Linked DNA regions of Homo sapiens: region 2 is linked to region 1. The links come from fine-mapping of genetic effects on gene expression. A gene starts in region 1. The other region holds a variant in brackets. All regions are shown on one strand. Distances are from middle to middle.

Region 1 (4,384 bases):
CGGGGCCCCCAACAGCCACTGCTGCTCCCCCTCCCTTGCCCTCCCAGGCTCCTGCCGGTGACTCTCCGCCAGCAGCCCCCACAGCGGGTTCCTGGTACATCCTCCCAACCCCAAGCCTCCCCAAGCCCTCGGCCTGCTGCAGGGACCCTGTGCAGCCCCAGGTCCAGCCCTCAACACCTGCTGGCACCTCAAACCCAATGTGCCAAAAAGAGCCCGATCGATCTGCCCTGTCCTCCCTCCCACTCATTGTGGCCTGACTCCGGGGACCCCTGCCCCTGTACCCCCTGGGTTTGAGGCTGTCCCTCCAGCCTGCACACAACCAGGCCCATTCCCAGACCCCTCCTCACCCTGCTGACTGCCCCGGCCACCTGAGGGCTGGGGTTGGGCTGGGATCACCGAGCCCTCCCTTTCAACCACATACCCACGGTGGGTGAACCCCACACCCTGGCACCCTCGAGTCCTGGGAAAGGCCCCAGAGGGACTCACCGACACAGTGTCCTGGCTCAGGTACCCGGAGAGGCTGCCCGAGCCATAGTGGATGTCAAACGAGGTACCATTCTTCACGTAGGTGCTGGACTTGTCGCTGTTGTACTTGTGGTGGATCCCTGCCCCGGGCGACAAGGGGGCCCGCCGGTCATCCCGCAGCCCACGCCACGGCCTTAGCCCTCCCATCCCCCTACAATCTACCATGGAGCCCGCACCCCCCAAGCTGCCTCCCCAGGGTGGGATTTGGAGGGGATCTGAGGCCCACCATCATGCCAGAGCCCCGGGACTGTGGGCTGTGACCCCGGGCCTCCCTCCCAGCCACAGCCGGCTCCCTCTGTGGCCACCCCAGCCCCAGCCCTGCTGAGAGCAAGACCACAGCTGGTGGTTCACCCAGAAAGTCAGTGGCTGGAGCAGGGTGGAGGGCTGGCCTGGCTCACGGGGCCAAGAGGCAGGAGAATTGCGTTGCCCAAGTGATTCCTGAGGCAGCCCTGCAGCGACATCCCGGAAGGGCAGGACCTGGGCGACGGGGCCAGGGTTCGTGACTCACAGCAAGCGATGTCCAGCAGTTTGCAGTGGATGGAGGGGACCCACAGGTTGGAGGAGCCCGTGTCGAAGACGACTGTGAAGCACTGGGGGGGCGTCCCGATGCCAATCTCCCCGTAGTACTGGGCCTGGCAGGGGACAGGGTCCGTCAGGGATGGGAGAGGGGGCCCCATCTCCCCACTGGGCCTCAGAAGGCCCGGCTGTCCCCAGAGCCAAGGCCCATACTGGAGGGAGGGGCATCACGGGGCCCACAGCTGCCAACAGCCACCCACTCCCACCTGCTCAGCCTGCAGGGAAGATGGGCCAGGTCCCCAGCCCTCGGTCCTAATGCCCACGGGTACTTGGGGTCTCTAGACCCCTGGCTTCTGTCACCTACCCCTGCTCAATACATGGTGAGGCTGAGGACTTCCCCACGGAAAAGACAAGGCCAGAGGTCAAGCCAGGGTGGGGACAGACGTGGCCCTCAGCCTGAGCCCCGGGTGCAGGAAAGCCCGGCCTGGAAGACTCCCCTGGTGGCCCGCAGTCCAAGGTCTGAGAAAGGAAGTGACTTCCTCCCCAGGTTGGGGCCATGTCAAGGTCTGATTCTGGGTGTCTCAGTGCCTGCCCTGCCCTCCAGGGTGAACCCCAGGCTTGGAGGGCTTCCAGGCAGAGGGGTTCAGCTGGTCAAGGGGAGAAGGTAAGCCTTACAATCACTGCCTGCCCAGCAACCCTGCCTTAATGGCCCAGGGCCTCAGTTTCCCCGTGTGTACACAGGGATAGCAGGCGCAGGTGGGGGTGCTGACTCAGGGATCAGGCAAGTACAAGGGGTCCCATGCCGCCGAGCCTCTCAGGAGGCAGAGAGTAAGAGGGTCCTGGAGTTTGGGGTCGCCTGGGCGCCCGCTTCCCCCAGGATTGGAGCCTGGGCCACCGTCAGCCACCAGATTCCTGGCACCAGCCCAGCCCAATGTTTCTCCAACCGCCTGGCTTCACGGAGCAGCAGCAGCTGCTGACTCATGGCCCCACAGAAGTGACCACTGGCAGGGGGACACTCAGCAAATTTCCATGTGTGTGTGTGCATGTGTGCGCATGCGTGCATCTGCTTGCTCGCGCGCTAGGACAATCAGGAACTGGCCAGTCGGGACCAGGCACACGGCGCCTGGTTCCCCCCAGGGCCCCCCTGGCCCAGTCACATGCCTGTGAGTCTTGGGCTTCCTGTCACAGCCAGGACTCGGGCCAAGCAGGACAGAGGGCAAGGCTCCCCCACAGTGGGCCAGAGCCCCGAGGCTGGACAGTAGGCCCTGGCCTCGAACTGACCCCATAGAGCTGGGACCAGGCTGACCAAGCCCCAGCTTGCTAGGTGGCTTCCAGAGTGCTCCACCTTGGATCCTGCTTCCCCCTGAAGGAGTAGTGGGCACAGGAGGGGCTGTTGCGAGAGGAAGAAGATGGGGAGGGGCTGGGGAGGCCACGAGTCACCACAGGCCTCCCAGCAGGACAGCAGTGAAAGGCTCCAGGTCAGCCGGCCACACTCAGGCAGGCCCAAGGACCGCCCCCTCAGGCGAGCTGGCACCAAGGCCCGAGGCCACTCCCAATCACCCTCCCAGGCCCTAGCAGGACCAAGACCCTGCAATGACAGGGGCCAGTGGCAGGAGGTTCCAGAATGGGGAAGAAAGGAGTGTGGCTGAGCCGGGACGCCACCGTGGCCAGGTGAGCCACTCAAACTGCGCTGCTGAGAACAGGAGGTGGGAATGTTCCCCATACTGCCACGGAGCTCTCCTGACAGTGGCTCCGCTTGCAGCAGGGCTAAGACCTCATACTCACGTCCATGTAGTTCTTGAGCACCTCGGGAATGGGCCCCTCGGTCACGGCTGGCACCGCCTGGGAGTACTTTGAGACGGGGCCTTTGGCAATCAGGTCCTCCACAGAGCCCCCAACCTCCGACATGGTCCGGCGGATGGACGTGAACTTGTGCAGCGGGATCCTGTCAACCACGGGTCGGGGCATATCAGGGAGGCCCTCCCGCCTGCCGGCCGACGCTGCCAATGCTGCACATCCACCTGGAGGCCCCTGGGGAATCTCAGAGTCGCCACAGCCAAAACCAAACTCCTGCCTGTCACCTGGAAACTGCTGGCCCAGCTCCCCCAAGTCAGTGAATGGCAACCCATTGCCCCCCGCCAGGTTGCACAGGCCACAGTCCTAAGAAGTGGTCACCCGCCACCCACCTCAGCCCCACACACCCAACCTGGGGGCCAGTGTGCCCAACCCTCCTCTCCTCAGCCATTCTGGAGGCTCCAAAGCCCCCAAGGGTCTCCCGTCCTCCCTCTGCACCTGCGCTGGTCTCTTCCAGGATGGTGGCCAGCATGGCTGCTCAGGGTGCTGGCGGGTACCTGTCACTCCTGCCCAAAGTGCTCTGAGGCAGCCCACTGTACCCAGCCCCCATCACACCTGCTCTCCACCCCCAGACACCTGCACGAAGGTGGCCCCACCTCCAGGCTGGCACTGGCAGCTCTGCCTGGCCTCCTCTGGCCATCAGATGGGCCCTCCACACCACCTCCAGAAGCCCTCCTTGACTACCTGTCCTCCTCCACATGGACCCTGTGGCTGCCCAGTGCCCTCATCCCACATCTGTTTCTGGGCATCCGCACCTCTCCTCACTCCATGCGGCTCCACGAGGTCCAGGACTGCACCTGGGGCCTTAGAGGCTTCTGTGCTGCCCCCCCCACCGCCCTGCCTCCTCCGACAGCTGCACTCAGGGTACCCCTCCAGAGTCCTGTCACCCAGCACACCGCCAGCCAGGGTGCAGGAGGGAGCTCCAGACTGAGATCGGGGTCCTGAGTTCTAAACCCAGGAAGCGAGTAAGAGAGAGAGGGGTCCCTGCTCCTCCCCCAGGGCCACTGGCCTTCCCCTTGGTGTGAACCCACTCCTTGTTCCAAGGAAGCTCCCCTGGGCTTTTAATCACTTAAATAAAACCTCTTCCCTGCCCCAGGGACTTGAGAGTACAAGGTCATAGCTGGCTTTTCCTGGCTTGTCAGGGGCGTGATCCCGGAAGATGAGATTATTGCCTAAGAGCTGGTGGGCTGGAAGAGCTCCAGGTTTTGTCCTGGGGGAGGGACACGCCCTCCAGGGACCAGGAAGCAGGTGTAATAGTATCAGTCGCACAAGAGCTGGAATCGGGTGAGGGCTTGGATTCAGCTACCCTTCCCTCCAAGAAGCCCCAGGATCGTTTCCCCTCTGCTGTGTCTGTCCTCCTTGGAGAGGGGAGGCCTGTGGATAGGCTGGCAAGGTCAAGGCAGGCTCAGGCTTGTGGCTACTCCCCCACAACGACTTTAATTGGGGCTACCCGCCCCCGGGCCATTCCCCACAGCCTTTGGTGAGGCTC
Region 2 (4,384 bases), 32 kb before region 1:
TTCCCACAGGAATGGAGACAGTCTGATGCTGCTGTAAAGTCAGATAAATAGACCAGTGGGACAGACTGAAGTCCAGAAACACATGCACCACGTCTCTACGGCCACCCAACAAACCACTGAGGGCCCCTGCAACTTAGTGGGGGAAAGATGGTCTTCTCCATGAGGGACATGGCAGCACTGGGACGTCTCTATGGGAAGAATAAAAATACTAACATTGCCCCGGAGTTGGTTCAGGTTCTCCGGCAGCAGAACCAGAAGTGAGAAGATCTCCATGTCTGTAATTTACTGGGGACATGCTCCTAGGAAAATGGGGGAAGGGAAGTAAGATTTCAGGAGAGTGGGGGTTTCTGTGCAGGCCCAGCTTCTGCCTAATCAATGGCAACTCTTGATCATAGATCATAAGTTTATCTTGATGCAGACAGGGGAGCTTGGCTTTGGGGCTCCAGCCGGAAACAGCAGTGACTAAAGACTGTGAAAGGGATATGAAGTCCAGATACAGGGTCTTCCCAAGTACCATCTCAGTCGTGGACTCTTGGAGACAGATGCACACTGAGGCTGGGGGTGGGGCACAGAGGAACAGTGGTATGACCCAAGCAGACCTGGGTGGAGGACCTACAGTGTCCTCAGCTCCCCCGACCTCCCACCTCACATCATACACAAAAATTCATCCAAGGTGGAGCACAGACCTAGATCCAAAAGGCAGAACAATAAAGCTATTAAGAGAAAAGCTTCATGACCCTGAAGTGAGTAAAAAAAAAATAAAGAAAAAAGAAATTAAAAATTAACAGGACATGAAAAACATCAGTCATACAAGATAAAAATTATAAATGGAATTTAATAAAAAATAACTTAGTTATCAGAATATAACATTAAGACAGTGAAAAGACAAACTGCAGAGTGAGAGTGTGCCTAATTACATTTGTCTGGAATGGTTCCTCAATCTTTCCTTGACGTTCATGACCTCGACACTTCTGATTATAGGCCAGATCTATTCTCACGATCCCTCAGTTTGGGTCTGCCTGGTGTTTGGCTGTGCGTTTTTGGCAGGATATTAGTCACCTCAGGCTGCCACAGCTAATATGACTGGGTGGCTGAAACAAAAAAAATTATTCTTTCTCATTTCTGGAGGCTGGAAGTACAAGACCAAGATCAAGGTGCTGGCAGATTTGGGTCCTAGTGAGGGCTCTCTTCCTGGCTTGCAAACGGCCGCCTTGTCACTGTGTCTTCACAGGCTGTGGGAGAGAGAGAACAAGCCCTCTGGTGTCTTTTCTCATAAGGACACTAACCTCATCATGGGGGTCCCATCCTCACGACCTCATCTAACCCTGATCAGCTCCCAGAGGCCCTGCCGTCAATACCATCACAGTGGAGGTGACACAAACATTCAGTCCTTAACCGGCAGAAATATCACAGAAACGACTCCGTTCTTATCAGTGCATCCCATCAGGTGGTGAACAGTTTCAATTTATCTGGTTGTTGATGACATTCACTTTGATCATTTGATCAAGGTGATGCCTGCTGGGCTTCCCCACCTGTAAAGTTACCTCTGAAGGCATAAAGTCATAAAGTTTCTTTGTGATTGCGATGACTCTTTAGGAAATTTCTTTGGAACTAAAGATCACTGTGGTTGTTCAACTACCAGTTTATTGATGTATTAACATCAGTGTATTAAACTCGGGTTCCTATTTTATGCAATAAACTGTAATCTTGACTAACATTATTGGCTTTGATGCTCAAGTTGTCTCTGGCGTGGCCGGTGGGAAGCGACTCCTGCGTGTTTTCTGCATGTCCTCGCCCTGGCTCATCCTGCCCCTGACCTGTCTCAGCCTGGAATCAGCTGCTTCCCCAGGGAGCCCCGGGTCCTGTCGGTGGTGAGTGGTATTTAGGGGCCAGGGTCTGCCACTGGGGGGTTGCTGCTTTCAGAGCCTCTTAGAGGAAGGAGCTGGAGAATAAATGGATTCCTCCAACTCCAATCCAACACCACAGGCTGCGTTCTAGTTTCATCCCTTTCAATATTTGTCACTCTCTTTGCCCACAGTGAGAAAGCAGACTCCCATTTACTTCAATATCTTTACTTCTTCTACCGACCCCCTGGGTGTAATCACCTCCCTCCCATTGCCACTGCCCATCTCCCCGCAGATGCCCTTCTCATCAGGCATGGCTCTGGCCCCCTCCTTGCAGCCCCTCCTCTCCGTGCCCAGCCTCCTGCCCCCCTCCTCGAGTGCCTTCCCCACAGGGATGCCCCCACATTCTCCTCTCTGTGCAGCTTAGTTCACAATAAAAATTACTAATCACCACTGCTCACTTTCCATTCCCAGAGCCACTTTTCTTCTGGAGATATTCTTTCTATGCATTGGAATTACTTATGAATAAATATAAGGCTAATTTCTCTCAGAGATATTACTTGAACCCAAAGATGTTCATAGTTATTTATTTTATTTTCATATGCATATGAAAATATGTCAGTAGACATTTGAGTTATTTCCCATTG[A/G]TGGCATTTATACATAACACTGCAATATATAAAAGACATAAATATTATACAGAAAACTACATCAAGCATAAATGTACAACTTAATGACTTTTATAAAGCAAATAGTCATGCAACCACCACCAGCATCAGAAAACGGAACCTTCCCAGCAACCCAGAAGTTGCCCCACCTGTGCTCAGATTTGTCAAATGCATCAACGTTTTTCATTATGATCACTCTATTTGTGTCTTGCCGAGAAAAGCAGTAACCAAATGGAAGATGTTGGTAATTGTGACTATATTAAAATTGGAAACTTCTGTCTATAAAAAGATGCCACTAGGAGAGCGAAGAGGAAAGCCTCCGAGCGGAAGAAATTATCTGCACTGCGTAGAACCATCAGAGGACGTGGACACGCTGTCCTGAGAGAACCCCTAGAATCACGGAGAAACTGACAGCCTGGTAGGAAAGAAATGGTCAAGACACTGAAATAGTCATTTCACAAACAGGAAAACCAAATGGCCAGTCTGTGCGCAGAAAAGACGCTCGACTTCCTCACCCATCTGGGAAACACAAACCAAACCCACCACGAGATACTACCACATGTTCCCCTGAGTGGCAAAAATTAAAAAAAAAAAAAAAAAAAAAAGACTGACAGCAGGTGCACTGGGGAGGAAATGAAACGGTGGGAACACACACTGCTGGGGGAGGCGCAGCCATCTTGGAGGGCGGGCGTCGCCTGCTGAGGTGGAGGATCAGCAGACTTCATAATTCGGCAATCCCACTACTAAGGATCTGCCCGAGAGACATGGGTTCTGGGGGCCCCGAGCAGCACACACAAGGATGCTTGCAGCAGTGGTACCCCTAAATGCCAAGACGGAAACCGCCCAAGCGTTTGTCGGTGGTAAAATGGATATGTACGCTGTGGTACATGATGCAATGGATGTCAGTCTGCAATGAAAATTCATAGGCACCCCAGTGAATCGCCGGGGGTGACTCAGCGCAAAACACCAAGCACAAAAGAGTGCATGGCCCGGTTCCATTCATAAAAAGTTCCAAAAGTCAGGAGCCTGTTTAACAGATGACGGCGCTGAGGGATGCACTCTTAGGTCGTAAAAATGTACACAAGGACTTGGAATTGATTGCTGGGTGTTGATCAGTCAGGGTGGTGGGTCCCAGCTGGGAACGAAGGGGTGGTCAGAAGGAGCCCCCGGGGGCTTCCAGGGGTCTGGACAAAGTGCTCTTTCTTGATATTGTATGGTTAAATTGATGGGTGATTGCTTTGTGAAGATTCATCAAGCTGTACATTTTCAAAAATTTTACTTTTAATTGACTTTGGGCACTATTCTGTGCGTTATATTTCACATTTAAGAAGTTTTTGTTTAAAGAAATCCTTTCTTTCCCATAGGTCATGAACAGCCCATTAATTTTGGCTAAAAGTCATCGTTGCTGCTTTGAAAATAATCGGTTTTCTCTGGCTGCTTTTAAGGCATTTTCCTCTGTGTCTCTGGTGCTGTGCAGTTCCACTGTGATGTACTCAGCCGGGGATTTACTGTTCTATCGTGTGGGCTTCACTGGTCTCAAATTGGTGGGTTGATGGAGCTTATCAGCTGTGGGCCATTTTCAGATGCTGTTTCCAGTGACTACTTCTGCTTCTTCCACCATCACAGCCTCTCTGGCCAGTCTCCCAAGAGCACATCTCCCGTCCTGGCTGCGAGCGGCCCCGACCACCCCTGCAAAGCCTCCAGCTCAGCAGGTGGATGTGAAGTCGGGGTGGGGAGGAGATTCCTGTCCCTTTTCTGTCTCAGAACAGTTCCCCTCTCCGCCCAGTCCCTGTCAAGGACAGTTCCTCTCATCCTGAGGTTCAGTGGGCCCTGTGGTTTTGTGGGGTCAGAGACTTCCCTGGCCCCTTGTGCCCC

What was found. PIP is the estimated chance that this variant, and not a neighbour inherited with it, causes the effect.
Region 2: its variant is fine-mapped to the expression of PRADX in whole blood (INTERVAL, PIP 0.98).

Annotation. Positions count from the first base shown.
Region 1 is chr11:1,758,483-1,762,866 of GRCh38, forward strand. PRADX (PRC2 and DDX5 associated lncRNA) reads left to right here and starts at 1,866. Exons shown (of 2, transcript NR_182291.1): 1 at 1,866-2,712; 2 at 2,837-4,004. It overlaps CTSD (cathepsin D), which reads right to left. Exons shown (of 9, transcript NM_001909.5): 2 at 2,827-2,986; 3 at 1,034-1,157; 4 at 487-605.
Region 2 is chr11:1,726,243-1,730,626 of GRCh38, forward strand. No RefSeq gene overlaps it. Among named protein-coding and RNA genes, the nearest start is that of IFITM10, 22 kb to the right of the region's middle. The variant A/G (reference allele first, on the strand shown) is at 2,492.